4 linked regions of the Homo sapiens genome follow. The protein of the gene in region 1 purifies or fractionates together with the protein of each later gene. This does not show direct contact. Each region holds a gene or a part of one and is shown in the gene's direction. Other genes may lie near its edges. The genes, in order: HS3ST4, SLC25A14, PPTC7 and PPP4R3B.

Evidence for each region.
Region 2: the proteins of HS3ST4 (region 1) and SLC25A14 purify together in Homo sapiens (affinity purification with mass spectrometry; one large-scale study listed by BioGRID and IntAct). This does not show direct contact.
Region 3: the proteins of HS3ST4 (region 1) and PPTC7 purify together in Homo sapiens (affinity purification with mass spectrometry; one large-scale study listed by BioGRID and IntAct). This does not show direct contact.
Region 4: the proteins of HS3ST4 (region 1) and PPP4R3B purify together in Homo sapiens (affinity purification with mass spectrometry; one large-scale study listed by BioGRID and IntAct). This does not show direct contact.

Annotation. Positions count from the first base shown.
Region 1 is NC_000016.10:26,131,098-26,138,794, forward strand, and holds the end of HS3ST4 (heparan sulfate glucosamine 3-O-sulfotransferase 4), read left to right. Parts: intron 1-4,514; coding exon 4,515-5,151; 3' UTR 5,152-6,588; downstream 6,589-7,697.
Region 2 is NC_000023.11:130,341,491-130,349,187, forward strand, and holds part of SLC25A14 (brain mitochondrial carrier protein 1 isoform 1 precursor), read left to right. Parts: intron 1-3,691; coding exon 3,692-3,785; intron 3,786-5,053; coding exon 5,054-5,201; intron 5,202-7,697. UniProt on the Homo sapiens protein: Transports inorganic anions (sulfate, sulfite, thiosulfate and phosphate) and, to a lesser extent, a variety of dicarboxylates (e.g. malonate, malate and citramalate) and, even more so, aspartate and glutamate and tricarboxylates.
Region 3 is NC_000012.12:110,535,965-110,543,661, reverse strand, and holds part of PPTC7 (protein phosphatase PTC7 homolog), read left to right. Parts: intron 1-3,716; coding exon 3,717-3,840; intron 3,841-4,906; coding exon of another isoform or gene 4,907-4,933; exon of another isoform or gene 4,934-4,935; intron 4,936-5,388; coding exon 5,389-5,518; intron 5,519-6,566; coding exon 6,567-6,625; 3' UTR 6,626-7,697. UniProt on the Homo sapiens protein: Protein phosphatase that plays an essential role in mitochondrial metabolism and biogenesis. Positively regulates biosynthesis of the ubiquinone, coenzyme Q. Dephosphorylates the ubiquinone biosynthesis protein COQ7 which is likely to lead to its activation.
Region 4 is NC_000002.12:55,591,393-55,599,089, reverse strand, and holds part of PPP4R3B (serine/threonine-protein phosphatase 4 regulatory subunit 3B), read left to right. Parts: intron 1-50; coding exon 51-674; intron 675-7,515; exon of another isoform or gene 7,516-7,579; coding exon of another isoform or gene 7,580-7,585; intron 7,586-7,697. UniProt on the Homo sapiens protein: Regulatory subunit of serine/threonine-protein phosphatase 4 (PP4). May regulate the activity of PPP4C at centrosomal microtubule organizing centers.

The DNA of each region.
Region 1 (7,697 bases):
AGGACTTCTGGCCTTATTTTAAAATCTACTCCTATTCTGAGCACTTCTTTCTGTGTTGCCCTCTCCACCTACACCCAGGCCCCCCACCATTTCTCTCTTTCTCTCCTAAAATTGTCTCTTAGCAGGTTACTTTCCTTCTATCTCTGCCACACTCCTATCTTTTCTCAGCAAAGTTACCAGAAAAATAAAATTAAGTGTAAATTTTATCACATTCTTCTGTGAGATATTCTTCAGTGGCTTCTCATCACATGAGGAAAACAATTCCAGTACCTTTTCCATGGCCCATAAGGCCCTCCATAGTCTATTCCCTGTCTGTCTTCCTGGCCCTATTTTCTGACTCTCTTACCTTTGCTCACTGCCCTCCAGCGTTACTGGTCTTCCTTCTGTTTCTCAAGCACACCAAAATGTGAGAACATGAGTATATTGAAGTGTCAGATGCAGTTAAAATGAACTTACTTAAAACCTAGAAGAGAGAAGAGAAATTGAGAGAAAAAGTGCCTGAAAGGTTGGAAGAGAATAAGATCCAAAGCCCAGGTTAGCAGGGGGTTTTGTCCTATCCACAGGAGGGATGCCTCCTCTAATCTTACAGGAAGAGGGAGACCAGCATGGTTTGGAAGTAGTTACTGGATCGGAGCCCCAGGTGAGAGATGAAAGTGGGGAAAAGGAAGATTAAGGCATCAAAACCTTTCACAACAAAAACCTAGCATTAGGACTGGCCTACACTTAGGAGTGGAGATTAATGGCTTGTCATTCACCCATCTATTCACTCAACAGATAGGCACTGAGAACCTGTTATTTGCCAGGACCTGTCACCGATCCTGGTGTTGAATTACTCTTGCTCAGCCACTCAACTTAGAAACAAAATACATACTTAGTGAGACCTTGGAACAAATCTTTAGCTTCTGGTCCTGTTTCCTTCTCTGTAAAACTGGAGTAATAATGATGCCTGCTCTGTTGATTTAAATACTTCATTATATGATGCTATAAAGAGCTCTTTATGTATCAGCTGTGGGAGCTAGACTGGTAGCTTAGTGGAGGAAGGGACTGCATCCGTTTTGTTTACTGTTACATTACCCATAGTGATCATTTATGGAATGAATGAAAGAATGAATGAATGACTATAACTGATTCAGAATCAGTTTGAGGAAAGGGAGCTTTGTCCTTTATAGATTTCAAGCAACTACTGGATATCTTCTCACTGACAAAATAACTGGATAACTCATGCCACATTGGTTGAATCATGGCTCAATGAGATAGTCTCCCCATGTGTGCCCCAAATGCAAAAACTCTCCTAAAGTATATACTTTTCACATTCATGGGTAGCATGAAGGTCAAAGCTATTTAGTCTCCTCTGCTCCCCTCTACTGTCTCCAAAGCCTTCTGCAATGCCTTCTCTTATTTCCTTTTGCAACAAGCAGTAAGTTAGGCACACATCTACTCTGCTAAATCTACCAGCTTATATGTTGGGTACCATTTTGTCCCAGATACTTCAGATAAAAGACTCAAGATCCACAAAGATCTTGACAGATCGTCAATCAGCTGAAGTAAAGGAGATGAATTTGAATGGGGCTCAGTGCAAAGAGAAGCATTGAGGTCTAAGAAGGCAAAGGTGAAGAATGGATGAAAAGAAAAGTTGAGCAGCTGCTCCTACACTAAAGAAAAATGCAACAAAATAATGTGTTTAGTTTTGTGTGTCAAAAGTACATCAGGGGAACTAAAATCTGGAAAAGGCCGTATAAAAATAGCTATTTTCAGGTGATGTGTTTTTGCATCAAGATTTATCTAATATTTTTATAATATGATATGAGTTGCATAATGAAACAAGGGAATATATCTCTCCACTTGAAATAAAAATAAGATGGTCAGTATATTTCCTATACTCAGGCTGAGCTAATGGTAGCTCCCTTGTTGGACACCAGCCTCCAGATCCGGAAGTGCAATTGATGATATTGGCATGAATTAGAGTATACTTTTTTCTAGATCAGTTCCTTAGATACCATGTTTTCCTGCCTTTTCCATTTGGTCAAATGAAGTATTTTTTTTTTCCTTGCCCTTCTGTAAGAATTACTGTAAGAATAATCCTGATTTTGGCCAGCTGGCTTAAGTTAAAAAAATTCTGACATTGAACCGGCATGATCCCAAGTGATTTACCTGCATTATGACATTTAATCTTCATTAAAATCCTATGAGGCATGGCCTTTTATTAACCCTATTTTCTTTGATGAAACATTAAGGGTCAAAATGGGTTAAGTAACTTCATCAAGGTAGCATGGGTAATCAGAACTCTTAATTCAGGCAAATCTGATTCCCAGGGGCTGCATTCCTTAGCCCTGTTCCTCCAAATTAGACAAATTGATCTGTTGAGAACCAAACAGACACACACAAAGGCATTCAAACTACTTTGGAGAATATGTCACTCCAAGATGAGCATGGTTGTTTATGGCCAGGGCTATTGCTTTGATCTGAAAACACCACGCTGCCCAACCATTATACTAACAACATCCAGCTCTTTGTGAATTTCTCTACGAGGCAAATTCCTCTTGCCTCATAAAAGTGCTTGCCGAGATAGCTCAAAACCCAGTTGCAATTAATTATTGACAGAGCATGTGAATTAGAGATAAAAGAAAAGTCATTCTTTCTCCACACACGCGATAGTAAATAAATTTAATTATGGTAGGAGAAGCTAGGGGATCTTTGTCTGTATTAAGTTTTATTAGCTAAGACATTTAAAAGCATGTCATCATAACAAAGAGGTCTTGTGTAATCCTAAATGCACCACTTTGGTGCAAGGCTCAGAAGTGAATAGATTTAATGGAGCACATGGTGGCAGATGGCCTGCTGTACTGACAGGTATTGAACAGGTTTATCTTCAATTAACTTTGGTCTACATATGCCTGTAGCAAATTGACTGTATAATGGCATTCTAAGCTTAATTTTATCATTGATAAGCCTGCCACATTGAGATTAGGGGAAAATGGCATCAAACCCCTTTAATATTAATATCTTGGAGCTCCCAAATAAGATAAGGCTACTCTGGAGGCAAACTCGGATGGAGGAATGGGAGTGGAGGAGCAGCCTTAGCAAAGGAACCAAGAGATACTGACCCTGGTATGGGATCTGTCAGTGGCTTTCTGGGCAATTTTGGGAGCAAAGAAAGAATAAAATCCCATATATTGAGCCATACCTATGCTAGATCTTTCATCTTATATGTCATTTTCCTCTCAACTGAATTTTCTTTTCTTTTCTTTTCTTTTCTTTTCTTTTCTTTTTTTTTTTTTTGATTGAGATGGAGTCTCACTCTGTCACCCAGACTGGAGTGCAGTGGCACAATCTCAGCTCACTGCAACCTCTGCCTCCTGGGTCCAAGTGATTTTCCTGCCTCAGCCTCCCAAGTAGCTGGGACTGCAGGCGCGTGCCACCATGCCCGGCTAATTTTTGTATTTTAGTAGTGATGGGGTTTCACCATATTGGCCAGGCTGGTCTTGAACTCCTGACCTTGTGATCTGCCTTCCTCAGCCTCCCAAAGTGCTGGGATTTGAGGTAGGTTTTAGGATTTTACAAATGAGGATAATAAGGCTCGAAGATATAATTCAATTTGCTGAGGTCACAAAGCCTGTCTGATTTCCATGTTTATTCCCTGTCCCTGGGCTTCGGTTTTCTCATTTGCACAATAATACCTTTGGACCAAGTCAGGGATCAGCAGACTCTTTCTTAAAGGAATAAGGAGTAAATACATTAGGCTTTGGGCCATATGGCCTCTGTCTTACCTCCTCAGCTCTGCTGTTTTACTGTAAAAGCAGCCTAGATGAATATGTAAATGAATGAATGTGGCTGTGTTCCAATGGAAGTTTATTTATAAACATTGAAATTTGAATTCTATATAATTTTCATGCATCACAAAATATTATTATTATCTTTTTGGTTTTTTTTTCAACAACAATTCAGTGATTACAAATCATTCTTATCTGTGAGTTAGACGAAAATAGGAGGCAGGAGGTAGTTTGCCAATCCTGGACTAGATAAGCTTTGAGGTCTTGTTGAGCTCAAAGATTTTCTAAAAACTACTATAACAATAATAATTTCTTTAATTTATTGAACTCTTACACATGCCAGCTTCATTGCTCAATGCTTTTTGAGCATTATCTCCCTTAATCCTTATACTACAGTGTGAAGTCAGTGCTATCATTATCTCTGTTTCAGGGATTATACAACTAATACGTAGAGAAATCAAGGGTGTATCTAGGTTAAACATAACTGGTAAGAGGTAGAATAGCCATTTAAACCTAGGGATATATAAGGGAGAGAATGTATATGCCTTGTGTTGCCTTTTCTGATAATACGTAGCCAGGGTAAGACTATAGTCAGGAGATATAGGTAAGAAGAACTTGCAAGAGTTTATCAATTTTATTTGGTGGTTCCAAACTAGGTTGTTTATATCACACATTTTGTGCAAAGAAGTTCAGATATTTCTGGACAGGAATAACCATTCTCTTCCTTTTTCCTCCCTCTCCTAGAAATGTGATGCCCAAGACTTTGGATGGGCAAATAACCATGGAGAAGACTCCAAGTTACTTTGTGACAAATGAGGCTCCCAAGCGCATTCACTCCATGGCCAAGGACATCAAACTGATTGTGGTGGTGAGAAACCCCGTGACCAGGGCCATCTCTGACTACACGCAGACACTGTCAAAGAAACCCGAGATCCCCACCTTTGAGGTGCTGGCCTTCAAAAACCGGACCCTCGGGCTGATCGATGCTTCCTGGAGTGCCATTCGAATAGGGATCTATGCGCTGCATCTGGAAAACTGGCTCCAGTATTTCCCCCTCTCCCAGATCCTCTTTGTCAGTGGTGAGCGACTCATTGTGGACCCCGCCGGGGAAATGGCCAAAGTACAGGATTTTCTAGGCCTCAAACGTGTTGTGACTGAGAAGCATTTCTATTTCAACAAAACCAAGGGGTTCCCTTGCCTAAAGAAGCCAGAAGACAGCAGTGCCCCGAGGTGCTTAGGCAAGAGCAAAGGTCGGACTCATCCTCGCATTGACCCAGATGTCATCCACAGACTGAGGAAATTCTACAAACCCTTCAACTTGATGTTTTACCAAATGACTGGTCAAGATTTTCAGTGGGAACAGGAAGAGGGTGATAAATGAGGCTAGAGAGGCAGAGGAAGGCTAGTCAATAAGCTAAGGAGGCTCCTTGCCTGAGTCCTTGAATACCCCAGCTTCTGCAGCTTCACTTGCTGGAGTGCCAAGTAGATCTCCTCCTCCTTCATGCAGCCAGGATTGCCTCCAGTGCTGTTAGCTTAGGCAAACAGGTGGATCCCATGGCATCCCCATGGAGGAACCAGGCCCATCTGGGCAGCAGCATCTGGTTGACCAGATGGCCACCAGAACCCACTGTTCATTCTTATCTTCTGCTAGTTAATATAGCCTGAAGACAGAGGATAAATAGTTGTCAATGTCAGAGACAGTGCTATTAATGTATATGTGAGCGACAAAAAAGGTCTGCTTTATAGGGGTTCTCACTCTAGCTTGGGGAGCCAGGGTTCTAGCCCTGTATCTGTCATGGGCACCTGCTGTCTAAACCTCTGCTTGGGCTTCTCCCCAGAATGCACTTTGTGGCTGAGTGCTCCAGGACTCCTAGGGAGCAAGGTCCTCCCTCTAAGGTGTTTCTAGTCTTCTCTTTAAAGGTCTCATCCCACAACCCCTGACTTCCTCCCTCCCCACATCATGAAGGCAGAGGCATGCACATTCCTCACTGAAAAAGAAAACACACACCCACCCACACACACACACACAGAAGAAAATGAAAGCTGACACACCTCGAAGCCTTCTTTCCAAGAGCCCTCTAAATGGGGTTGGGTCTCACTCTTCATGAGTATCCTGGGTTGTGCAGAAGCTTAGCATATGCCCTTGTGTTCGGATCAGGCCCACAGGGCTGCTCAAAGAGTAGAGTAATTGTAACCGAGGTCAGAGCTCTGGGGTTGGCAGAGATGAGTGGCCATATCTGGGGGTAAAAGAAGAAATCCTGTCCTCTTGGTGGGAGGTTACCTTACCTGAAGACCATCTCTCCCAAGCACTGTAGTTCTGAGCATGTTTTTGGGGTGGACTCTGTCCCCTAGGGTCCCTAGAAGGGCAAAGACCAGAGAGTTGACAAGTCTGTTATTAGGAATAATCCTTAGCCATGTAATGGAGAAAGGAGCAGTCAGCATTCTTCCAATTTGCCCCACCACCACCTCCTCGGGCTTCATTTTCTCTATTTAGAGATGGCAGAGAGTGAGGTAGTGGCGAGAAAGCTGACTCCATTCATCAGATCCAGTTTATGAGGGTTGGGGGTGAGCAAGGGCTGTCTGCAGAAACCCCCATCAAGAGCTGCTGAATGAAGTGTCCCTTCCCATCAGTTTGATTCAATTAAAATGCATCATTTGACATAAAGCACTTGTTCACAGATCTCCAAAACCAGGAATTGTTCTAGTAAAACTGGAAATTTGTATGAGTGGGGGGAGTTAAATCTGTTCAGCTGTTATTAAACTGTCATTTCTCCCGCTAAATGAAAACCGTGTTGTTATAAAGCTTAATGCAACCTGATTAATGAGTTTCGATGGTGTGTTTGTGTTGATCATCTCCATCTTCCCGCCTCCCCTGGAATGCCAGGAGCATCATCTCTCTGAGATGGCTAGAAAGTCCCAGAGGCAAGAATCTTCAGAAGGTTCTGTCTGCAGGGCACAGTGAATCTTGCAATAGTACAAAGCAAGTGGGTCCTAAAAGGAGTGCAGCTTTTTCCTATCTTAACCATTTCCAACAAGGAATGGACTGATATGCCAGATTCAAAAGCAACCTTACAAATAATTTTTCCAGATAGTAAAGCAGTTATTGAGCTGAAAGCAACAGATATACCTGCACTATCAATGTAAAAGAAGAAACAGATCAAAATGCGTGCATGTACATTTGAAGGAAGAAAATGCACCCATATTTAGAAGGGCAAACTGTGGGACTCATGCGGGGTTTGGTTTCATAAGCAGAGCAAGGAGTGAGTGAGTTTCAGCCCTCCCTACCCATCAGAGTCAGCCATGGAGTTTGTTCAAGCCTACTGCTTCCTGAGCTCTGTTTCAGACCTGTTAATGAGTCAGAAACTCTAAGGTGAGGCTCAGGAATTCATCCTTTCAAAAATATTCTTAGGGAAGCTGGAACTGAGAGCAACTGGAGGAAAAGGCTTGTCTGTATATTTCTTTGCCTCCACTCCCTCCCTCCTACCTCCTTTTATGCTTTTGCTTTTCTCGGAATTATTTCCAACAGAGGTGACCTCCACAGTGTTATGGCTTCCCTGCAGAAACATGTGCTCTTTTGGAGTTCAGTGGCAATAGGGTTAAGTGTTACCCTTATAACTTAGACAGTCAAAGGAGAATCTGGTTGTAGCAATGCTTTAAAGAAATAAATGACCTATTAATCTAGCTTGCTCTCATCACCTCCGTTCTGGGCAGGCACATATTCATTTGGACCCTCAGTCACACCTACTATCCATTTTCCATCTGCCTGGTTGTCTATGTGTCTTTAAAAGCCCAGAACATTAAGACTTGCCTCCAAAACATGTGTCCTCACATAAATATGTCCCCAAAATATGACAAGCAAATCCATTTTGTAATGTGGTAGCCAATGGTGAATAAGCCACTTCACCTGGGAAATAAAAGTGGAGAAGC
Region 2 (7,697 bases), on another chromosome or scaffold:
ATTGTTACCTTCTGAATCTGAGAATCTCTAATTTCTACTCTTTCTTAAAGGAGAAAGCAGGAGAGGCACCCAGAGTTTCCTGACCAGATCTTGGGAGTAGTATAGGGCAATGTAACTTGTATTGTAGGACATTCTTACTTTCACTCATTAGTCTATCAAATTCTCCGAAGTCAGATCTTCAGAATAAATGTTGGCATTTTGAAGACAATTTTCATTGGTTTCTTTATACAGTAAAAATATTTAGGGTACTATATTTTTATTTTACCTTAGATATGACTACTTTTACGCATATTTGGGGTTAGCCCCTACAAGTTAAAATAATTTTTAGAGGGCTTGGGGTATTTTACATAAGTAATTCCTTGGAACAAAAGCAAGGGAACAGGGTTCGCAGGCAGAGAATATCTGGGGATCAAGATAGTGTCATACACAGGGTGTGTAGCATTGGCCAGGTCCAGCAAGTTACCTTCCTTGTTTCCTCTGCAATCTTTTATATACAGGCTGCATACATAGGTAAAGGATGTCACACTGCAAAACCAACTAAGTATTGAATGGATATGTATTCAATTCTATGCAAGCTATAATGGGGGTTATAAAAAGTACTGTGAGATATAGTATCTTCCCTTGGGGATCTTACTTAGTTAAGAGAGGAAATAACATTGGACATCTTGAAGTTGACCCTCATCCTAGTCATTATTTTTATGCCTGAGATTAAGATATAGAAGGGATAAAAGAAGGTTCAAAAAATATTGCACACCTGTAGAATAGGTGTGACACAACACGCATGCATGTAGACAACTTTATGTAAAAGACTTGGAGGTTTCAGCTGACAGTTTAATGATTTGATAGTGTGATGTGGCTCCCAAAAAAGTGAGTGCAATTTTAAGCTCTAGTAATTGAAGTATAATGTGTCAAATGAAGAGAAAGATCATGGATATTTAGCTCAAGAAACATGAGATGTAAGAGAACATCATAGCTGTCTTTAAATATTTGAAGGGCTTGCCTAGGGAAAAAAGAATGCATTTGTTGAATATTACCTCCAAAGACTGGGTACAAATTAGAGGAAGACAGACTTTTGGCTCAATATGAGGAGGGAGTGTCTAAAAACAGATCTAATCAAATATGATCCAGGATTTCTTCATAAGATTTTTTCCTAACATTGGAGTGAAAGAGATTTTACTATCAGATGGGGGTAGGGAAGTCGTGATTGTGGCAATGGTGGGTTTTGCCTGTGGTCTCCAGATTTTTGGATTTCATGGGCCAGTAAAATGTAAATGAAAATGTGGGAAGGGTACACAAATACAGGCTAGTTAGCCTGTGCTCCAGGCGTAAGAAGAATCTGATCTGTTAATAATAGACAGTCCCTAAATTAAATACATTTAGCTGAAAAAAAAAAAAAGGACTAAGTGTCCTTATTTTTTTCATTTCGCCCCAGAATTGTGGGAACTTCATTAGGGAACCACTGGGCTAACTGGCCTAAGATTCAGCGACTGGTCTTTCATCTTCCTGCCATGTCCTCCCTGTTCCTTGCCTTTCACTGATTCATCATTGCTCCCTGAGCACATTTTCCTTATTAAAGGGCTGGTAGCAGCTTGTGAAGTTCCGATAGAGGCTTTCTCTGTAATACAAAGAGTTGAAAAAAGTTGTAAGGAGAAAAAGTTTTGGAGAGACAACTTTAAGTAAAAGTAGCTGTCTGAAACCTTTAAGACTATTTGGGGCAATCGATAAATTTGTGAATGGAGAGTTAATTTTTTCCTCACAAACTCAAAGAGGGGATATGCCATGGTCTTGCTTTTCCATCTCTACTCTCACCATATGTGTCATATTTTACTATCAATTCTAATTGGAAAATGTGGGCATAGCTAGAAATGGTGATAAGGTAGTATTTAGTCTTCAAGACTCCTATTTCCAGCTGCAGTTGATACTTGAAGTGGCTATTCCTACTTTGCTCATTAGAATTCTTTTCAACAACTTTCCCTCAAAAGGGCTATCTATCCCAGACTCTATATGTGCTATGCTTGAAAGGAAGCCTCCATAATGATTTTTGTGGCCTGTAACTAAAACATTTAATCAGCGTGTTTGCTATCTTCTCTGGAAAATTGTATTTTGCTTAGTTACAGAGAATTCCTTATGTGGAAACAAAGCAAAACCTTCAAAGGGATACTGTGACTCATAGCTGCTAACCCCAGACTGGGCAATGGGAGGGAGGGGTGGGCAGCAAGTAATATCTGTTAAGATGTAAATTTGGGTACTTAAATTTTTAAAAATGTAATAATGATAGTTAACTAACAATTATTGAGCTACATGCCAGGCACTTTTAAAGGTGTTTTTCATATATTATTTAATTTTCACAACAACCCTATGATATAGTTTTTATTATTAGTTCCATTTTACAGTTCAGAAAGTGGAGGCATAGAGAGATTAACTTGCCCAAGGTCACAGAACTAGTAAGTGGTGGAGTCAGGAAATGAATCTGGAGTTAGCATTTAAATTTTAACAGTCTGACTTCAGGAGTCTGCATTCCTCACCATAAACCACTTGGAAGTTGCTTTTGAAATTCAGAAGTATACATACTGTGAAGCTCTGAAAAAGGAATATTTGAAAGAAATCTGAGAGTCCATGCTAAGAACAGATACTACTTTCAGATGGACCAGGATTTAGTAGGCAATGCCTAGAGCAGTTCTTAAGTGTGGAAGTATCAGCGTTATTTGGGATCTTGCAAATTCTCAGGGCCATACCACCAATCAGAAACTCTGGGGGAGAGGCCCAACAATCTATGTTTTAATAGACCTTCTAGATGATTCTAATACATGCTAAAATTTGCAAAACCTAGAGGCCAGAGCTCTGGAAAAAATAAAATCCAAGAGAGAGCAAGCTGACAGTGGCAGAAAAAGAGAGTAAAGCTGAAAAGATTGATGATGACAGGTCTAACGGGGGTGGGATAGGGAAGGAGAAAAGGGAGGCTGGGAGCAGAATACGTTGTTAAAGAACTAGAACATAAAAGAAGAACAGTATTTATATGTGTGTGTTTTAAAAGGCCAAGAGGAAGGAAAAGGAGATCCACTAGATGGATGTACGTTAAATGTCAGAGGGAAGATAGACATCATATTGCTATCATTCCTTTGGGCGCTAGAAGGAAGGTGAAAAAGTTCTTAGCTCAGCCTGGGCCTAGTTGGGGGGACAAAGTTATATATAGCTAGAAACCCTATAGTAGAGAGATAGGAGGGCTAAGAATATGAGAGAGTAGTAGTGTGAGCCTGTGCTTTGCACCTGAATCAAGCTAACTGAATACCATGAACTGCTTTTATGAGATGCCTCAGCCTATATAATTTGAATTCCGGGTTCCTTCATTTGTAATTATCTAGTTGAATGTCAAAGTTGGGTGTGCTGGATGGACTGAAGCCTCTTCTCTGGGTGGGGATGAATATAACATTAAAGAAACTGGAGAGAATGAAGGGCACAGGTTGATCTCTGAGTGAATCACACGCCTACCCCTACAAAATGTCAGTAAAGAACAAACTCATGATCATCCAGCACATAAAACAGGATCCCCCATTTTTGTGTCATTCCACTTGGTGGGGTTTTTCTTCTACATCTATTTTATTTGCCAATTTTGTTTATCTAAATTATATGATCAGATGCTAACAAATGCTCCTCACTCTTGTGCCTTGTTCTGATTTGTGTTTATTTTTAGCACCAGAAAAGTACCACTGTAAGTCATGAGATGTCTGGTCTGAATTGGAAACCCTTTGTATATGGCGGCCTTGCCTCTATCGTGGCTGAGTTTGGTAAGAATGTGAGAAATGACAAATCTGCATTATACGGTATAGATGGTAGCTTATGATGATGGTTATTTTTGGTGAAAGCTAGGTAAAAAATAAGAAGCTCGCCTTATTTTGAAAATTGTCTCAAAGCCATGAAGTAATATTTCAGGGAAAGTACTACTGATGGTATGGCAGATGAGTTAAGAAAAGTCAAACTAAGGAAAGCTTTTTTGGTAGTTTAGTGATTTGTTAGTTTGCTAGGCTTAAGTAAAATACATGAATATATAGAGGGAGTTGATATGTCATAAGGGTTTTTGCTATATTTCTGTATTAATAGTCTTTTATGCTAAATTATTTATAAGTTTATTTGTACTGAAAGTCCTTTTTTTCAAACCTCTTTCCCATTTTAGAAGAAAATGTACTAACAAGATCAAACAAGATTCTCTTCTACATGATTTTGATTTTGAAATATTTTTAGATTGTCGTTTTTTTCATCTTCCAGATGTTCTCTTTTCTAAACTATTCATGAGTGACTACTGACGTTCTTGGCATATCCTGTGGTGTTGTGATATTTGGGTCATCAGTGACCAGAGCTACCTAATCACCTTGTTAGTTTTACACCCTGAAATATATTTTGTCAATGTGATGACCACTTCTGTTTGTTGATGTAAGAGGTTTGGTTAAAGAAATTTCCCCCCCAAACACTCTGCTGGTATTAGTCCTGAATTACCTAAGGGACCAGGATGAGTAGAACCAAATAAGACTTTGCCATTATCTTTCATAATATTAGGGGACTATTTGTTTCTTGTAAACAGATAAAAGAAAAACCCCACAAAACTTTGTAACACTATATAAGAGCATCTGGAGCAGCAATCCCATGCTTTCCTATCTTTGTGAAAATTTAGGGAGATTTTATGAGACACAGAGGTGGGGAGACTTGGGGTGGGAAGGGGCAGGAGGGAGACTGATAAATGCCAGATTATATGTTACAGATGAAATAAAAAACAACATTTAATTATTTTGCATTTATAATAGGGCAATCTGAAAGCATTTTATTATATTACAGTTTGAAGTATATTGTGGGTCAATTGGTGCTGCCTATGTATAGTATAATGCATTTCACTTACCACATGCAACTCATGTTCTCTGACAGTGGTATTCTACTAGAGCTCTTCTATGTGTTATAAAAAGGACTTTGTCTTAGGATTCAAATATTGTCCTTGGCTTATATTTAGCAACAACTTAACTGTGATTCTTTGGACATACTTATAAATAAGTGTGTTCCTTTATAGGGACTTTCCCTGTGGACCTTACCAAAACACGACTTCAGGTTCAAGGCCAAAGCATTGATGCCCGTTTCAAAGAGATAAAATATAGAGGGATGTTCCATGCGCTGTTTCGCATCTGTAAAGAGGAAGGTGTATTGGCTCTCTATTCAGGGTGAGACTGGTTCTTTCCTTATATCATTAACAGAAATGCTTTTTAAAGAAGCCATAGTTTTCAGCTGTCTGATAGTTTGTGTCCGTTTCATATTCACCATTTCAACTTGTAATTCAGTATTGATATGCCAGTTTATATTTCTCCTGCTTGTAAGTCTTGAGCTTTGGATTTTGTGTTCATTTGGTTATAAGTGATAATAACATTTTAAAATGGATATGTCATTGCAGCATAGGCTTTCTGTGGATTTCCCGAGAGTCACTAATAGCCACTGTTAATAACAGCACCAATTAATTATATATATTTTTGTGATATCCCTCCTGAGTTGGCAAATTCTGACTTCCTTTAAAATTTTCCTCTTTGAAAAAATATTATTCTTGCAGTTTAAACAGAAAGTGCATAATGAGAGAGAGGGAGACCCATCTTTATCATCACCTTTTGATTAGCCATAATTTTGTGGTTTACTGTCTAGTTTGTAGTTTATCTGTTGCCAGTTTCCTAGGCCACTCCTGCATCTAGGCTACCAGTTTATTACTCAGAGAATAGACATCAATTTTATTGTTAAACTATGTTACATCGTTAAACTATGTTAGACTTAATTTAAAAGGTAATTTTCTTGGGGGAAAAATCAAGTAGTGTATCCTGAAGCATCCTGAAGATGATCCACCATCCTGATTTGTGGATCATCTGTTTCACCTTGTTCTTTCATCAGCATAGATCATCACAAGATATTTTCTGATAGCAAGCAATAAAGTCAGAAATATGCATATTTAGTCATCATTTAAAAATCCTAACCATTTGAGCTGCTGCTGTCTTTCTATTTATACCTCCTACAGTATAGTTCTGCAATTTGGAAGAATCCCAAAGGAGGTATGAATGAGAATGTCTCCAGTTTAAAGGAGAACTTAAATAGGGTGGAATTTTGGCTCTAGTACCTCCTTGTTGATGTGATTAAAGACGTATCTGCAACTGTTAGGAAGTAGAGGTTGATTTTTTTAAAAAAATCTTTATTAGGTGAGCAATGATGTATAATTCTTTTTATACATTGCTGGATTCAATTTACCAATATTTTCTTAAGGAGTTTTGCATCTAAGTTCATGAGAGACATTAGTCTGTGGTTTTCCTTTTTTGTACTGTTTTTGTCTGGTTTTGGTATCAGGGTAATACTAGCCAAAATTAGTTGGGAAGCATTCCCTCTTCTGTTTTCTGGAAGGAACTGTGTAAGCTTAGTGTTAATTTTTAAAATGTTTTGTAGAATTCCCCAGTGAAATTATCTGGGGCTATTTCTTTTTGGGGAACATTTAAATTCAGAGTGCAAATTCTTTAAGGTTATCATAGTTTGGGGTGCTATAACAAAATACCATAGACTGGGTGACTTATAAACAATCGGAATTTATTTCTCACAGTTCTGGAGGCAGGAAATCTGAGATCGGTGCCAGTTTGGTCAGGTTCTGCTGAGGTCTCTTTTCTGGGTTGCAGACTGCCAAGACTTCTTATTGTATCCTCACATGGCAGACAGAGTGAGGGAGCTCTCTGGGATCCCTTTTATAAGGGCACTAATCCTGTTCATGAGGGCTTTACCCTCATGACCTAATCACCTCCTATTACCATCATATTGCGGGTTAGGATTTTAAGATCTTGATTTGGGGACGATACAAACATTCAGTCCATTGCAATGGGTATGAGTTTTATTCAGATTATTTGTTTTATCTAGTTGAGTTTTGGTAGCTTCTGGTTTTCAAGGAATTTGTCCATTTCTTCTAAGGTGTTGAATTTATGAGTATAAAGTTGTTTATACCATACTCTTATTGTCCTTTTAATGGCTGCAGGAATTGTAGTGCTAGTCCCTGTTTCATTTCTTATTTGCATCTTCTGTCTTTTTATCTTTGTGAGTCTTGCTAGAGGTTTATCAATTTTGTTGATTTTTTTTTAAAGAGCTAACTTTTTGTTTCATTGATTTTTCTCTATTTTCCTATTTTCAATTTCATTGATTTGTGCTTTTTATTATTTTCTTTTGCTTGCTTTGGGTTATTTTGCTTTTCTTTTTCTAGTTTCTTGAGGTAGGAGCATAGATTATTGATTTGAGACTCTACCCCCCCCCCCCCTTTTTTTTTTTTAAAATGCAAGCATTTCATGCTGTAAATTTCCCTCAGCACTGCTTTGGCTGCATCTCATACATTTTAATAGGTTGAATTTTGTTGTCATTTAGACCTGTGAATTAAAAAAAAATTCCTTTGACAGACACTTGGTCTGACCAATAGATTATTTAGATATATATTGTTTAATTTCTAAATGTTTGAGGATTTTTCTTATTGATTTCTGGTTTGATTCCATTATTGTCAGATAACATATTGTATATGATTTCAGTTCTTTTAAATTTGTTGAGGTTGGTTTTATGACCCAGAATGTTCAGTTTCTTGCTGAGTGTTTCATGAGTGCTTGAAAAAAATCATATTCTGCTGTTGTTGGGTAGAATGAGATGGGTAGTCCAAATAAGTA
Region 3 (7,697 bases), on another chromosome or scaffold:
AAGACTCTCACAGACAGAATAGCAAAGGACACTTCTGGGGAAAGAAAAACCTCAGCATAAAACAGAGCTTCAGTGCCAACCTGGTCATTAATCTACACTTCTAGAATCTGATTAGCTTTCAAAGGCTGAGCAGATGAGAGCGTCTTGCATTGTTTTCTCTTTATTCCACAGAAAGAATTGACCTGATTTCCCCCAGTTTTACAGTCTTTTTCCCTTTTTTTTTTTTCATGCTGCATGTATCTCCTTAGTTAATGGTCCCTCTTATCTACAGAATATTATTTTAACCTTAACTTACAGGTTTTCCTTTAGTAGACATTTTTACAAAATGTTGATTATCTAAATATGTAAGTGAAAGTCGGTTCCCTGCAGCAGCACATGGCAGAACTTTACATGTGCCACCTTTTTCCTCAGTCAAGTGAAGATGAACCAGAAATTTTCTGAGTGCATTTAGTGTGAATCCTCATAGGCATGTGTGCTTTTGTTTGTTAGTTTTTATGCTTTCTCTTCACAAATGTTGTCACATGTTGCTTACACAAGTGTTGGGGTTTTTCCGTGGAGCTTAGGGTGCTTTGGATCTGGTGCCTCCCTTCCGGGTCGGTATCTGATTTGCTTTCCTGGCTCTTGTTCCTTAATTACAGATTAAGGCGGATTATCAGATCTCACCTTTCCCTCCCCAGGGAGGCCTGGAAGGAGGGAAACTGGCCTTAAGAAGTCGCCAAGAACCAGCCTCAGGAGGCCATGATCTCTGAATATAGGATCTTTTCTCCCCACCCGGGGTTTTCCCCCATTTTTATGTCTGTTTTCATCAGGCATTGTCAGAGAAAAAGATCTTCCATCTGTTTTTTTTTTCAAGAGTTGTACACAAAAAAGTTTAGTGAGACATCTGCCTCCTGTTCCTGCCCTTAGCCACATATTCTGTCCTCAAAGGTTTCTTTATGAGCAGTTTCTTTAGTTTCTTTTTCTTTTTTTTTTTTTTTTTTTTTTTTTTGAGACAGAGTCTCGCTCTGCTGCCCAGGCTGCTGGAGTGCAGTGGCGCAATCTCGGCTCACTGCTACTGCTGCCTCCCTGGCTCTAGCAATTCTCCTGCTTCAGCCTCCCGAGTAGCTGGAATTACAGGTGTGCACCACCATGATCTAACTTTTTGTATTTTTTAGTAGAGACAGGGTTTCACCATGTTGGGCAGGCTGGTCTTGAACTCCTGACCTCAAGTGATCTGCCCACCTTGGCCTCCCAAAGTGCTGGGATTACAGGTGTGAGCCACCACCCACAGCCCGCTATGAGCAGTTTCTTTGATTCTCTCCAGATCTATTCCCTGCATATAGAAGCATCCATGTCTGTGTGTCTTTCTGCCTTTTTTTTTTTACGGAAATGGTTGCACATACGACACACCGTCTTCACCTTGCTTTCTTCAACAGTATATTGAAGAGTTTTTTCCCCCAATTTGGAGAGTCAAATATTTTGCTGCTTCATTCAGTTATGCAACAGATATTTCTTCTATTTTTTTTTTTTCTTGAGATGGAGTCTTGCTCTGTTGCCCAGGCTAGAGTGCAGTGGCGCCATCTCAGCTCACTGCAACCTTCAGCTTTGGGGTTGAAGCAAGTGATTCTCCTGTGTCGGCCTCCCAAGTAGCTGGGATTATAGGCGCACGCCACCATGCTTGGCTAACGTTTGTATTTTTAGCAGAGATGGGGTTTCACCATGATGGCCAGGCTGGTCTTGAACTCCTGACCTCAAATAATCTGCTTGCCTCGGCTTCCCAAAGTGCTGGGATTACAGGGGTGAGCCACCACGCCTGGTCAAGATATCAAGATATTTCTTGAAGACGTGTTACATGAGGCACACTAATAAATACCTACGTATGATGACCACTTTGGGACCCTTGGGAGACACAGAGTCCTTACTATGCCAAAATACTGTAGCTATTTCCGGTGAATGTATTCTTTTTTTTTTTTTTTTTTTTTGAGACGGAGTTTAGCTCTCGTTGCCCTAGCTGGAGTGCAATGGTGCAATCTCAGCTCACTGCAACCTCTGCCTCCCAGGTTCAAGTGATTCTCCTGCCTCAGCCTCCCTAGTAGCTGGGATTACAGGCGTGTGCCACCACGCCCAGCTAATTTTTTGTATTTTTGGTAGAAACGGGTTTTAACCAGGCTGGTCTCAAACTCCTGACCTCAGGTGATCCGCCCGCCTTGGCCTCCCAAAGTGCAGGGATTACAAGCGTGAGCCACTGCGACTGGCAAGTGAATGAATTATTTTTTTCCTTTTTCTTTTTCTTTGAGATGGAGTCTCACTCTGTTGCCAGGCTGGAGGGCAGTGGCACGATCTTGGCTCACTGGCTCACTGCAACCTCCATCTCCCGGGTTCAAGCAATTCTCCTGCCTCAGCCTCCTGAATAGCTGGGATCACAAGCGTGTGCCACCACGCCTGGCTAATTTTTTAATTTTTAGTAGAGACGGGGTTTCACCGTGTTGGTCAGGCTGGTCTTGCACTCCTGACCTCAGGTGATCCACCCACCTTGGCCTCCCAAAGTGCTGGGATTACAGGCGTGAGCCACCACACCCAGCAGTGAATGAATTCTTATAAGATTGGCGGCTGGGCGCAGTGGCTCACGCCTGTTATCCCAGCACTTTGAGAGGCCAAGGCGGGCAGATCACGAGGTCAGGAGATCAAGACCATCCTGGCCAACATGGTGAAACCCTGTCTCTACTAAAAATACAAAAAATTAGCCGGGCATGGTTGCGGGCACCTGTAGTCCCAGCTACTCGGGAGGCTGCGCCAGGAGAATGGCGTGAACCCAGGAAGCGGAGCTCGCAGTGAGCCGAGATCGCGCCACTGAACTCCAGCCTGGGCGACAGAGCGAGACTCTGTCTCAAAAAAAAAAAAAAGATTGGCATGTTGTTCTCCACAGGTATTCATCATCCCACCCTCACTATGGCACTCCAGGACCCAGATTCAAATATTCGAGGAAACTGATGAGTGAAATATGTGAATAAGAGGGGGTGGGCTGGGTGGCTGGTGATTACAGTGGCTCATGCCTGTAATCCCAGCACTTTGGGAGGCCGGGGCAGGCGGATCACCTGAGGTCAGGAGTTCAAGACCAGCCTGGCCAACGTGGCAAAACCCTGTCTCTACTAAAAATGTAAAAACAAATTAGGCGTGGTGGTGCATGACTGTGGTCCTACAGGCACTATTTTACATGCCTGTAGTCCCAGCTACTTGGGAGGCTGAGACAGGAGAATCGCTTGAACCCAAGAGGCAGAGGTTGCAGTGAGCCTATATCGTGCCACTGCATTCCAGCCTCGACAACAGAGCGAGACTTGTCTCCAAAAAAAAAAAAAAAAAAGGCGGGGGGGGATGGAATTCGGCTGTAAAGAATTAGGAATAAAGACTCATTTCCACTAGGATTTTAGAGGTGTGTTAGATCTGACTCAGAAGAGGACCCTTCCTCCCTCCTTCTCAGCCACTTGTGACTAATCATCAGACTTGGTTTTACTCGGTAGTTTCAGTTAAAAATTTGAAACATTTATATTAGAATTTTCGATTAACTTTTTTCAGAGTTGGGAATTTCAGAATGACTTTTTTTAAAAATTGACTCCATTATGATAAATCAGTTTTTCTTGCAGAAAGCTTATTACATTGTAAAATAGTGCCTGTAGGACATTTTCAACTCATCTGTAAAGGGCCTTCTTAACTTTGTCCCTCCCCTGTCCTTGCCACAGTCCGGATGCTGCTGATAGCACGTCTTTCGATGTCCAGCTAGGAGACATTATCCTGACGGCAACAGATGGACTCTTTGACAACATGCCTGATTATATGATTCTTCAGGAGCTAAAAAAGTTAAAGGTAATTAACTCAAAGGTTAGCTCTTGGGAAAAGTGGCCCTCTCTGGATAGCTGAGTTTTATGGATTCAGTTGCATTATCTCTTTGTAGTTTTGGAAAGAACTATTTTGTGAATTTCAGGAAAATAATAATAGCTCTGGTCTTTCAAATAATTAGAGCACTTGGAAAAAGAAGCTTCCTACCCAAGGTTTTCATAGGCTGGTAGAAGTAGGAAAAGTCTAGATGGAGGGCATTTCTTGTTTGTATCTTTATTTATATTTTAATGGTGTCGGGTCCTGGTTGTTTCTCCTTTTATTCTTCTAACACCCAGCAGGTGTTGAATCAGGCAAAGACAGGAAATAGTCATGCCAGAGCCAGCCAAAGGCAGCAGGCCACTGGAAGCCTCAGTGTGACCTGAGCTGCCACCAGTAACCAAATAGTATGGGTTTCTCCCATAGAGGAAGGAGGTGAAACTAGGCTTTCAATTTTTTCCTGGCTTTGTGAACATACTCTGGGAAAAATGAGTCTTTTTCTCATGAGTCTTTACCTCTAACCAGTATGACTTTGGGTACGTTTCTTTCTTTTTTTTATTATTTATTGAAGTTGCTGAGATCTGAGGGTTTCTTAAAACTGTTTAAGCAGTATTTTCTTCATATAAAATGGGGCATCCTAAAGATCCTCTTTTATAGGGTTGCAGTGAGGATTAACTACAGCCCTGTGTAGGAACTCCTTAGCGCCACGCCTTGTCTGTGGAGTGCAGTCAGTGTGAGGTGCTTCCTTGTCACAGGCACCGTGCTCTGTGTGGTGACACAGTGGTGAGCAGAATCTACACAGTCCCTACCTGTATGGAACTTACATCCTAGTGGAGGAAAATAGATAAATACAGGGAAGTAAATCTATGATGTAATGTGGGTGCTAAATAAGAAAAACAAAGCTGGATAAGGGAATAGAGAGTAGAAGGGACTGCTACTACTTTAGATAGATTGGTCAGGAAGGGCCTTTTTGAGGAGGTGACATTGAAGCAGAGACCTGTCATTATACTGAAACTAGAGCTGAAGTGGACCTCGTGTTCCCATCCCCGTTTTGCAGATGAGGAAGTTGGAGCAGCAAGGATAAAGGTATGGCCCAAGATTTCACAGCTCGACAGGAATCTCTTCCTGATATAAAATTCTGAAGGTATTTTCACTAGAGCAACTGGTAGCTCTTGGAGAGCAAACTGGGGTTGGCCAGGCTGTGTTCCTAAGCAAGGAAGCTTTTGAGGTATCCTTCAAAGGCTATCAGAATCTGCCTTTTCAGTTCATCCTATTTTAGCAAGAATACCTTAAGAATTTCAAATGGGAAAAAAAGCAAAAATGAAAATCCAAACTTTAGGGCTTAAGGCCACCAAAGCAAAGGACTTTCTGATTGATACCTTGTGCAGGCAGCACTGGAGTCTTGTTCATATTAGCCAGGGCATGATGTTTTAATGTCTTTTCTAACTAGAATAAAACTTACATGATGGAAAAGGTGGTTAGATAAATGTTACTGTCTTGAGCATTATGGTAAAATAACTTCCTCATGCTTTATCTTAGAATTCAAATTATGAGAGTATACAACAGACTGCCAGAAGCATTGCTGAGCAAGCTCATGAGCTGGCCTATGACCCAAATTATATGTCACCTTTTGCACAGTTTGCATGTGACAATGGATTGAATGTGAGAGGTAAGCATTCTTTGGGAAGGTCATAGGGACTGACTGGGGACATGGTGTCAGTAGAGTGGAGCATTCTGGGCTCTGGGTGAGACTGTGGAGGTGTCCTCTCCCAGCCCCCAAACTGTGCACTTGTGGCTTTCAGCAAGGTCAGGAGGATGAGAGCAAGTGCATTTCGTCATGTCTTCCCCACACAGCATGCCCTTCAGAACTGAACCTCATTGGCGGCAGAGGCAGGTGGAACCTGAAGCCCTTTATTGCCGCCACCGCAATGCTTGGACCTGAACCCAAAAGGCTTCCGAGCTCTGCCCAGAGTGCGTGGACATTCCTAACAGTTTAACATTCAGCCTTTCACGTGTCTGACATTTCGCTTCTCCCTTCCTCTGGCTTTGTGGGACTCAACAGTATTTGCCTGACAAATTGCCACAGCAGGGTTTGAAGAGGGAAGCAATGTGAAACTGCCCTTGACTGAAGACTTGTCCTATCTACAGCATGATGTGTGACTTTGGGAGCAGGCCAGTGGCTCCGTCTCAGGGCTGGGACATGTTGGTGCTAGCATATCAGAGCTAGTAGAATTAGTTTCTTGTTGGTATAATTTTATGACATGTGAAACATTTCTTAGTCCTCCAAAAAATGTTAAAATAGAAAAAGTGCATGCCATAGCTGTTTGGCAGATTAGAATACAAGGCTATTCCTAGTTTCAAAACATTGGATATGTCTGTCTAAATTAGGATTGTGGGTATAGAAGCATGTAACTTTCTCGTCAGATTCACTGTGATTGATGTGAACAGAGGGTGTGGTGGCTGTTTGAATAGAGCTCCTGTTGTAAAGGAGCAGGGAAGATTTTTTTTTTTAAGCTTCAGTTTCATGTAATTTCTTGGAGTTTTGTTTAACTGTTTTTTTTTAATCAAATATTTTTTTCTTTATTCTACTAGGGTATACTGACAAACCAAAACTGCCTGGAATGCAAGCATTTGTCTCCTAGTACTTAATTTAAGTACACATTTTTTATTGACTTTTCCTTTTAAAATATACTGATAGGTTCTCATTTTCATTGTAGGTGGAAAGCCAGATGACATCACCGTCCTTCTTTCAATAGTGGCTGAGTATACAGACTAGCTGAGGTGTCAAGTCCTGCCTTTCCTTTCATCATCCCAAATTTCCCCTGCCATGTGTGCTGATCCTGCTGGCAGGACCACATTTCTTTGCCACTGATCTCAATGGCCAGTGATGTAAGTCTTTTGCCTGTCTTCTTGAGACTCGTTGAGATCTTTGTTGAGAACCACTACTATCATTCACTAGCTCATATCTGCCGGCAGCAATTGAAGAGATCCAATATTTGAAGATTGGCCTTCATTTCTCGATGTTCTTTCCATGATGGGGATGGAGGTGTTCAGTGCCACCGTGGCTGTTACTTTTCAAAGTAGTTGAAGTATTGAAAATGAGTAATGTTGGTAAAGTGAATTCAAAATCCTAGTATGCTAAAGGGATGGTACAAGTCTAACACAAATTGTACGTAATGATACATCTACTAGAAACATACATTATTCATCAAAAGAAATGTTACATGTGTACTCCACAGGCATAGTCTTTGTTATGATGATTGGTGTGGCTTTATGTCTTTGTTATAAACTCCTATTTTTCAGGGGCTTATGATTCTGCTCTAAAACATTGCTCTGGGTTATACAGTTTTGATCCCAAAAGCTTTTTTGTTACAAATCGGGAGAAAAATCCATTTTAGTTCTATGGATGGAAATATTTCATGCTTTTAAAAAGATGTTTGTGTTCCTGTGGTTAAAGTTTTGGCAGTTTATTGATTAGTCCAAATCACAGGCTAAGGCCTGATCTCCAGGAGGGGTAGGGGAGACACTTTACCAGTATTTTTTTATGGAAATAATACTCAAGGTTGTAAAACCCCTCAAAGCCTAGAAATTTAATTGTTATGGCTGAAATTCCTCCTAGTTGTCTGATAGAATGCCCCTGAATGGGAACTCTAGGTCCCAAGGCCTGAAGGGTTGAGAACAGACAGCTGTAACTTTGAATTTTGTTGGCTTTCAGTGGTCATGCTACCTACCCATACTCGTACTCTCAGACCTTTTATTAGTAGCCTTGCTTTCTATAGAGCATGCACCAAATCCAGTGAGTCCATGTGGAGAGAGCACTGTGTGCGCAGCGGCAGCAGCACAGACGT
Region 4 (7,697 bases), on another chromosome or scaffold:
GAATTATTTTGTATTTTAAGGTAATTAGCTGTATACTTGGATATTTTTAGGTTCAAGGTAAAGACCCATCAGTGGAAGTCACACAGGACCTCATTGATGAATCTGAAGAAGAACGATTTGAAGAAATGCCTGAAACTAGTCATCTGATTGACCTGCCCACATGTGAACTCAATAAACTTGAAGAGATTGCTGACTTAGTTACCTCAGTGCTCTCCTCACCTATCCGTAGGGAAAAGCTGGCTCTCGCCTTGGAAAATGAAGGCTATATTAAAAAACTATTGCAGCTGTTCCAAGCTTGCGAGAACCTAGAAAACACTGAAGGCTTACACCATTTGTATGAAATTATTAGAGGAATCTTATTCCTAAATAAGGCAACTCTTTTTGAGGTAATGTTTTCTGATGAGTGTATCATGGATGTCGTGGGATGCCTTGAATATGACCCTGCTTTGGCTCAGCCAAAAAGACATAGAGAATTCTTGACCAAAACTGCAAAGTTCAAGGAAGTTATACCAATAACAGACTCTGAACTAAGGCAAAAAATACATCAGACTTACAGGGTACAGTACATTCAGGACATCATTTTGCCCACACCATCTGTTTTTGAAGAGAATTTTCTTTCTACTCTTACGTCTTTTATTTTCTTCAACAAAGTTGAGATAGTCAGCATGTTGCAGGTAAGTAAAAAGATACTCTTCACGATTCCATTTTTCAGATATTTAGTTCCCTTAATAGTTCAAGCAGGTGTTTATACCCTCTATTTTTTGAAAGATTTATTTTGTTTAAATGTACTATTAAGTACATTTAAAGTAAACAAAAGAAATTGGGACTTTATGTCTTGTGGTTTTAGTGCAACCTTTTATTTATTTTTTTGAGTCGGAGTCTCGTTCTGTCGCCCAGGCTGGAATGCAGTGGCGCAATCTCAGCTCACTGCAACCTACGCTTCCCGGGTTCAAGCAATTCTTCTTCCTCAGCCTCCCGATTAGCTGAGACTACAGGTGTGCACTGCCATGCCCAGCTGATTTTTTTGTATTTTTAGTAGGGAAGGGGTTTCACTGTGTTGCCCAGACTGGTGTTGAACTCCTGAGCTCAGGCAGTCCGCCCGCCTCAGCCTCCCAAAGTGCTGGGATTATAGGCGTGAGCCACCGCGCCCAGCCCAGCCTTTTATATTTTTAAGTAGCCTGTGTTTTAGCTTTTTATACAATTTAGTATTTGTGTTTCTAAAATTGAGGTAGAATATACATAACATAAAATTCACCGTTTTGACTATTTATTTATTTATTTATTTTTTGAGATGGAGTTTTGCTCTTGTTGCCCAAGCTGGAGTGCAATGGCATGATCTCAGCTCGCCGCAACCTCTGCCTCCTGGGTTCAAGTGATTCTCCTGTCTCAGCCTCCTGAGTAGCTGGGATTACAGGCATGTGCCTCCACGCCGAGCTAGTTTTGTTTGTTTGTTTGTTTGTTTGTTTTTGAGACGGAGTCTTGCTCGGTCGCCCAGGCTGAAGTGCAGTGGCGCAATCTTGGCTCACTGCAAGCTCCGCCTCCCGGGTTCACGCCATTCTCCTGCCTCAGCCTCCCGGGTAGCTGGGACTACAGGCGCCCGCCATCACGCCCAGCTAATTTTTTGTGTTTTTAGTAGAGACAAGGTTTCACCATTTTAGCCAGGATGGTCTCGATCTCCTGACCTTGTGATCCACCCACCTCAGCCTCCCAAAGTGCTGGGATTACAGGCGTGAGCCACCCCGCCCAGCCCAATTTTTTGTATTTTTAGTAGAGGGGGGTTTCTCCATGTTGGTCAGGCTGGTCTCGAACTCCCAACCTGAGGTGATCCACCTGCCCCGGCCTCCCAAAGTGCTTGGATTACAGGCATGAGTCACTGTGCCCGGCCAGTTTCAACAATTTTTAAGTGTACAATTCATTGGCATTAAGTATATTTGCAGTGTTATGCAGCAGTTACCACTATCCATTTCCAGAACTTTTTCATCATCCCAAACAGAAACTCTGAACCCATTGAACAGTAACTCCCCATATTCCCTCCTTCCAGCTCTTAGTAACCACTATTCTACTCTTTATGAATTTGCCTATTATATATATCGATGATGCAGCTATTTTTTATTATTATTATTTTGAGACGGAGTTTCACTCTTGTTGCCCAAGCTGGAGTGCAATGGTGTGATTTCGGCTCATTGCAACCTCCACCTTCTGGGTTCAAGCGATTCTCCTGCCTCAGCCTCCCCAGTAGCTGGGATTACAGGCACACGCCACCACACTCGACTAATTTTTTGTATTTTTAGTAGAAACAGGGTTTCACCATGTTGGCCAGGCTGGTCTCAAACTCCTGACCTCAGGTGATCCGCCCGCCTTGGCCTCCCAAAGTGCTGGGATTACAGGCGTGAGCCACTGCACCTGGCCAATGCAGCTATATTTAACCCTTTTCCTGTCTGTCCTGTGAATACTCGCCAGTAGTGCTTGGCTGCAGTGTTTACCTTGAGATAACTTTGCCACAAAATACCTAGCTTTTATTATTATTTTTGCATTGCTGTGGCATATTGACTTTGGAAACAGAAGACATCATTCTATTTATAGCATTCTGGTTTTAATAGTGATATTTTCATTTACAAACTATAGTAATTGTTAATCACTGAAAATGTCAAATCGTAGAAAACATAGCAGTCCTGCACATGGTATTGTCATTCTCGAACAGTTGTTGCCCGAGGATTCGTTTGTTGAATCTGATTTTTTTTTTCGAAATAGACGAATCTGATGATTCAAACAATTCTGATGTTAGTTCTATTTAGAAATAACTCCAAGAACAGTTTTTATATTTTATTTTCACCTTGAAAGTCAGATTTGCTTCGGCCTCAAAGAGCGTGTTTATGTAAAATTAAATGAGTCCTTGCAGCAAGCTGTACTTTTTTTTTCTCAATGGGTAAAGGGTTAAAAGTATGTTTTCTTCCATTTTGAGAGATACTGTTATTATTGGGGTGTATACGAGTATGTGGCTATTTGCTATATGAAGGTGATTTTATTCTGTCTCCTTGAGTTGTGAAATAGGAGTTTTATACTATATTTATCATGTTAATCCTTTACACCCTAACAGTATAGTAAGCATGCTTTTTAAGTACTTGTCTTACTTGTAACAGTAGCCTATACTCAGCTTTCTGCATAACTGCTTTTGTTATTTCCATATCATTCACTAAGTTTATTGAGCAGCTACTATATACTTAGTATTGTGGATCTCAGAGTGTGGTTTGTGGACCTCTGGAAGTCCCTGAGCCCCTCTTACAGGCATTTATGAGGTTTTCCTTTTTCTAGTTTGATGTCAGTGTGAGGCTGTGTTTTTTTTTTTTTTTTCATGTACTTTTGCTTAAAGAACATATTGCAACACACTGAATGCCAGAAAAGATAAATGAGTATCTGGTTGTCATTTGTTAAGCCAGGTATTGAGATTTGCAAAAATGTAAAAGGGGCTACTCTTTTTTATAAAAGTTTAAATTTTGGATCATATAGCTGTTTCTCTTAAAAAATATTTACATAAACATAAAATGACTTATTTTAAAATGAATTCATAAATATTTTCACGAGTCTTGGTTTTAATTGTAATTTTTAAAAATTTATTTTATTTTTTATATAGAGACAGGATCTCACTGTGTTGCCCAGGCTGGTCTCAAACTCCTGGCCTCAAGTGATGCTCCTCACCCTCCCAAAGTGCTGAGATTATAGATATGAGCCACTGTACCCAGCCTCTGCATAATTCTTAAGAGTTTAGGCTGGGTGTGGTGGCTCATGCCTGTAATCCCAGCACTTTGGGAGGCCAAGGCCAGGAGGATCACTTGTGGTCAGGAGTTTGAGACCAGCCTGACCAACATGGCGAAACTCCATCTCTACTAAAAATACAAAAATTAGCCAGGCACAGTGGCACGTGCCTGTAATCCCAGCTACTCAGGAAGCTGAAGTGGGAGAATTGCTTGAACCGAGAGGCGGAGGTTGCAGTGAGCTGAGATTGTGCCACTGTACTCCAGCCAGGGTGACAGAGCGAGACTGTCTGAAAAAAAAAAAAAAAAAAGTTTAAAAGGGTCCTGATACAAATAATTGAGATTCTATCTCTGACTTAGTGCCTAGCTAATCGACTTCATTTTGCGACGTTTCCCACCAGTAGTCACCTATTATTGTTTACTTTAATTTTTTGCATAGGATTTACTTTTCTTTCAGGTCATTTATTCACCTACCAATTTTTTGTTATTCACCAATAATGAGTGTGGGGGAGGTTAGATGTACATATCAGGTTCTTTTTATAATATATAGGACCTGTGTATTTTTAAACTGTAGTATACAATTCAGGGTGCTATTTCACTTGTTGACAGAAAAACATTTAATAATCTTAGGAGATTGGACAGAGTCACAGTCTGTAGTTGATAAAAAGAGGACCAGGAACAGAAGCTCATATGTAGCTTTCAAATGACTGTTTTTGTCTTCAGAAGGGTTTCCAAATTCATACTAGTAAATCGTAAATACTTTTTTATATTCAGAAAATAAATTATATGAACTATAAATATTTGTAAAACTTTGTCATTTTATGTATTTTATAATAGGTTTATTTGTGAAGGCTATAATTACGTAAATCAAGTGCAGCTTTTTATTTTTCTAAAAGATTTACTCATTTCTGCTTCATGAGATGCATTTCATGAAATAGCCAGATTCTGTGAACTGTCTGTTATTTACATAACATTTACTACTTAATTATCTCTTATGTGCCAGCAATGATGTTGAATTTTTTTTTTTTTTTTTTTATTTTAGATTCAGAGGGCACATAGGCTTATTTGTTACATGGGTATTGCATGAGTAATGGTGGAGATTGGGCTTCTAGTGTACCCATCACCGTGATATTGAACACAGTGCCCAGTAGATAATTTTTAAACCTTCAGTCCTCTCCCATCCTACCCCTTTTTGGAGTTCCCAGTGTCTGTTATTTCCATCTTAATGTCCTTGTGTACCCACTTGTAAGTGAGAACATGCGATATATGATTTTCTGCCTCTGAGTTCACTTAGGATAATGGCCTCCAGCTCCATTCATGTTGCTACAAAAGACATGATTTCATTATTTTTTAACATTTCATTTGTATTCCACAGTGTATATATACACCCCATTTTCTTTGTCTGATCATCTGTTGGTAGACACTTAGGTGGGTTCCATGACTTTGCTATCATGAATAGTGCTGCGATCAATATACAAGTGCAGGTGTCTTTTTAATATAATGCTTTTTTTTCCTTTGGGTATGAATTGTGTTTTCAACTATGTGTGAAAAGGAAAGAAATAAGATTGTGGCCAGTGGTCTCTATTTTATTTTATTTTTTGTAGAGGTGGGGTTTTGCTATGTTGCCTAAACTGTTCTTACCTGGCCTCAAGCAATCCTAGTGCCCAGCCTTCCAAAGTGTTGGGATTACAGATGTGAACCACCACACCTGGCCCTACAGTGGCCTCTAAGCACTTATTTCCTAAAGTCTCACTCTGAGATTTCCATGTAGAAATTTTTGGTTAGGTAGTAGGTGTTTCTAGATACCTATCTGGGTATCTAGTACACTTACCTGTGGTTTCTTAAATGCGCATTAACTTGCTGCTGTGTGAGTTGTAGAAGGCAAGTGAATATGTAAGAATTTTATGTAACTGGGCCGAAGTGAGGTAGTACGAAGGTCCTTATCATAAATCCTAGCTTAAATTAGGTTAATTAACTGAGAAATTATATGAGAGTACTTAGCATAGTCAGTGGCTCCTAGTATGTGTGCTAATACATGTTGACAATATCTTAAGCATGATAGGGACATAAGACTTTAGTGACTCCAAATGTTCTAGCTAATTGCAGATCAAAATCCCCTGTGCCCAGAATTGAGCAACATTCTTTTAAAATATTTTAGAAATTATTTATTTATTTATTTTGAGACAGAGTCTCGCTCTGTCACCCAGGCTGGAGTGCAGTGGCGCCATCTTGGCTCACTGCAGCCTCTGCCTCCCAGGTTAAAGTGATTCTCAAGCCTCAGCCTCCTGGGAGCTGGGATTACAGGCAGCAGCCACCATGCCTGGCTAATTTTTGTATTTTTAGTATAGACAGTTTCACCATGTTGGCCAGGCTGGTCTTGAACTCCCAACCTCAGGTGATCCACCCGCCTCAGCCTACCAAAGTGCTGGGATTACAGGCATGAGCCACTGCCCCCAGCCAGAAATTAAATTTTTGAAAGCAAGTAAAATGAGATTATTTCTGCACAAACAGTTATAGAATAAGATCCTTTTCAGAACAAAGTTTTAATTTCTCTCCTTACTAGAAATGATGGAGGATAGGAATCTCAAATGTTGACATTTTAACACATTTACATATATTATATTATATACATATTTCTGCTATTCCATAGGTAAGAGTTAAGCTTAAAATTAGCCCAGCAGGATTAGCGGTTTAGTTCTCTTTTTAACATATTTTGCAGATGCTAAGGTTTTGGCACGGAAAGAGAAAAATTTCTAACTTCCCATCCCAGTTACAGATTAAGTATGTAAAATCTTCAGATACTCTTTAAAAAACTGTTTAGAGTAATAGGGCTTTTCATTTTGTTTTTAGGATTTTTCTTTGGATTCAAGTACAGGATTTAATATATTAAATTTTATCTTACTAGATTTGGCCCATTCCAGCTTTGTGTATCTTTTGCTTTGGTTTGATTCATACGTTTGAAGTTTGAAATACTTGGAAACCTGTCTTGTGGTTTACTTAGTAGGAGTGACAAAAACCTCATTAATTATTTGGGAGGCCTGGATTCTAAATCCATCTGTCACTAGCTACCCTCAGAAAGGTTCACTTTTTGAACCTCAGTCTCTTGAAATTTAAAATTGGACTTGACAGTCTCTGTAATGTTGCAAAATCTGATTTAATTCTAAATTTCTGTGTTTATATGTTTCTAAAAATGAATGGGTTCTGTTTTTTCTTTTGTTTGGCCTGTATTTATATTACTGCAAAGAGAAGAGTTTGATTTAGACTGTTTAGAAGCAACCTCTTTTTTTCCCCACAGTGTTTTTTTATGTTGTCCAGAAAAGCAGCCACACAAGTTTTGACTTAAATATATAGGTTTTATTAAAACAAAAGCTGTTAAAACCAAATAGAAAAGAAAAACTAAAAGAGATTAGTTTGATTACTTGGAGAACCAGAGATTTTGGAGTAAGTATTTCAACTATATGATAGGCTTTAAGTTATTGATTATTTGCTTCCTTCATAAATATATTGGAACAGAGTGCTTTTATAGCTTAATGAATAATAGCCAGAGTAATGCTGGAAATCAGGGAAAAAATACTAGGAATACATATTCTCTTAATGGACTGTAATAATTGAGATTGCCTCTATCTGTAATATTTTATGCAGTTCTACTTATCAGCTCACAAGTACCGAATCATATAAGAAGAATTCAAGTGGGAAATTGCATTTATCAAGGAGTTGGAACTTTTTTCTTATGAAAATATTTTGAAAAAATTAAATTTTCAGGTAGTAAAGGATGAAGATGTAATCTACAACAGATGCAGGAAAATAGAAATTTATAAAAGGTGTGAATGGAGGTAAATATGTACTTACTCACCCTAACCTAAAATATTAAGACTAAAAGTATTTGGAAAAAGTAGGCTGGGCATGGTGGCTCATGCCTGTAGTCCTAGCACTTTGGGAGGCTGA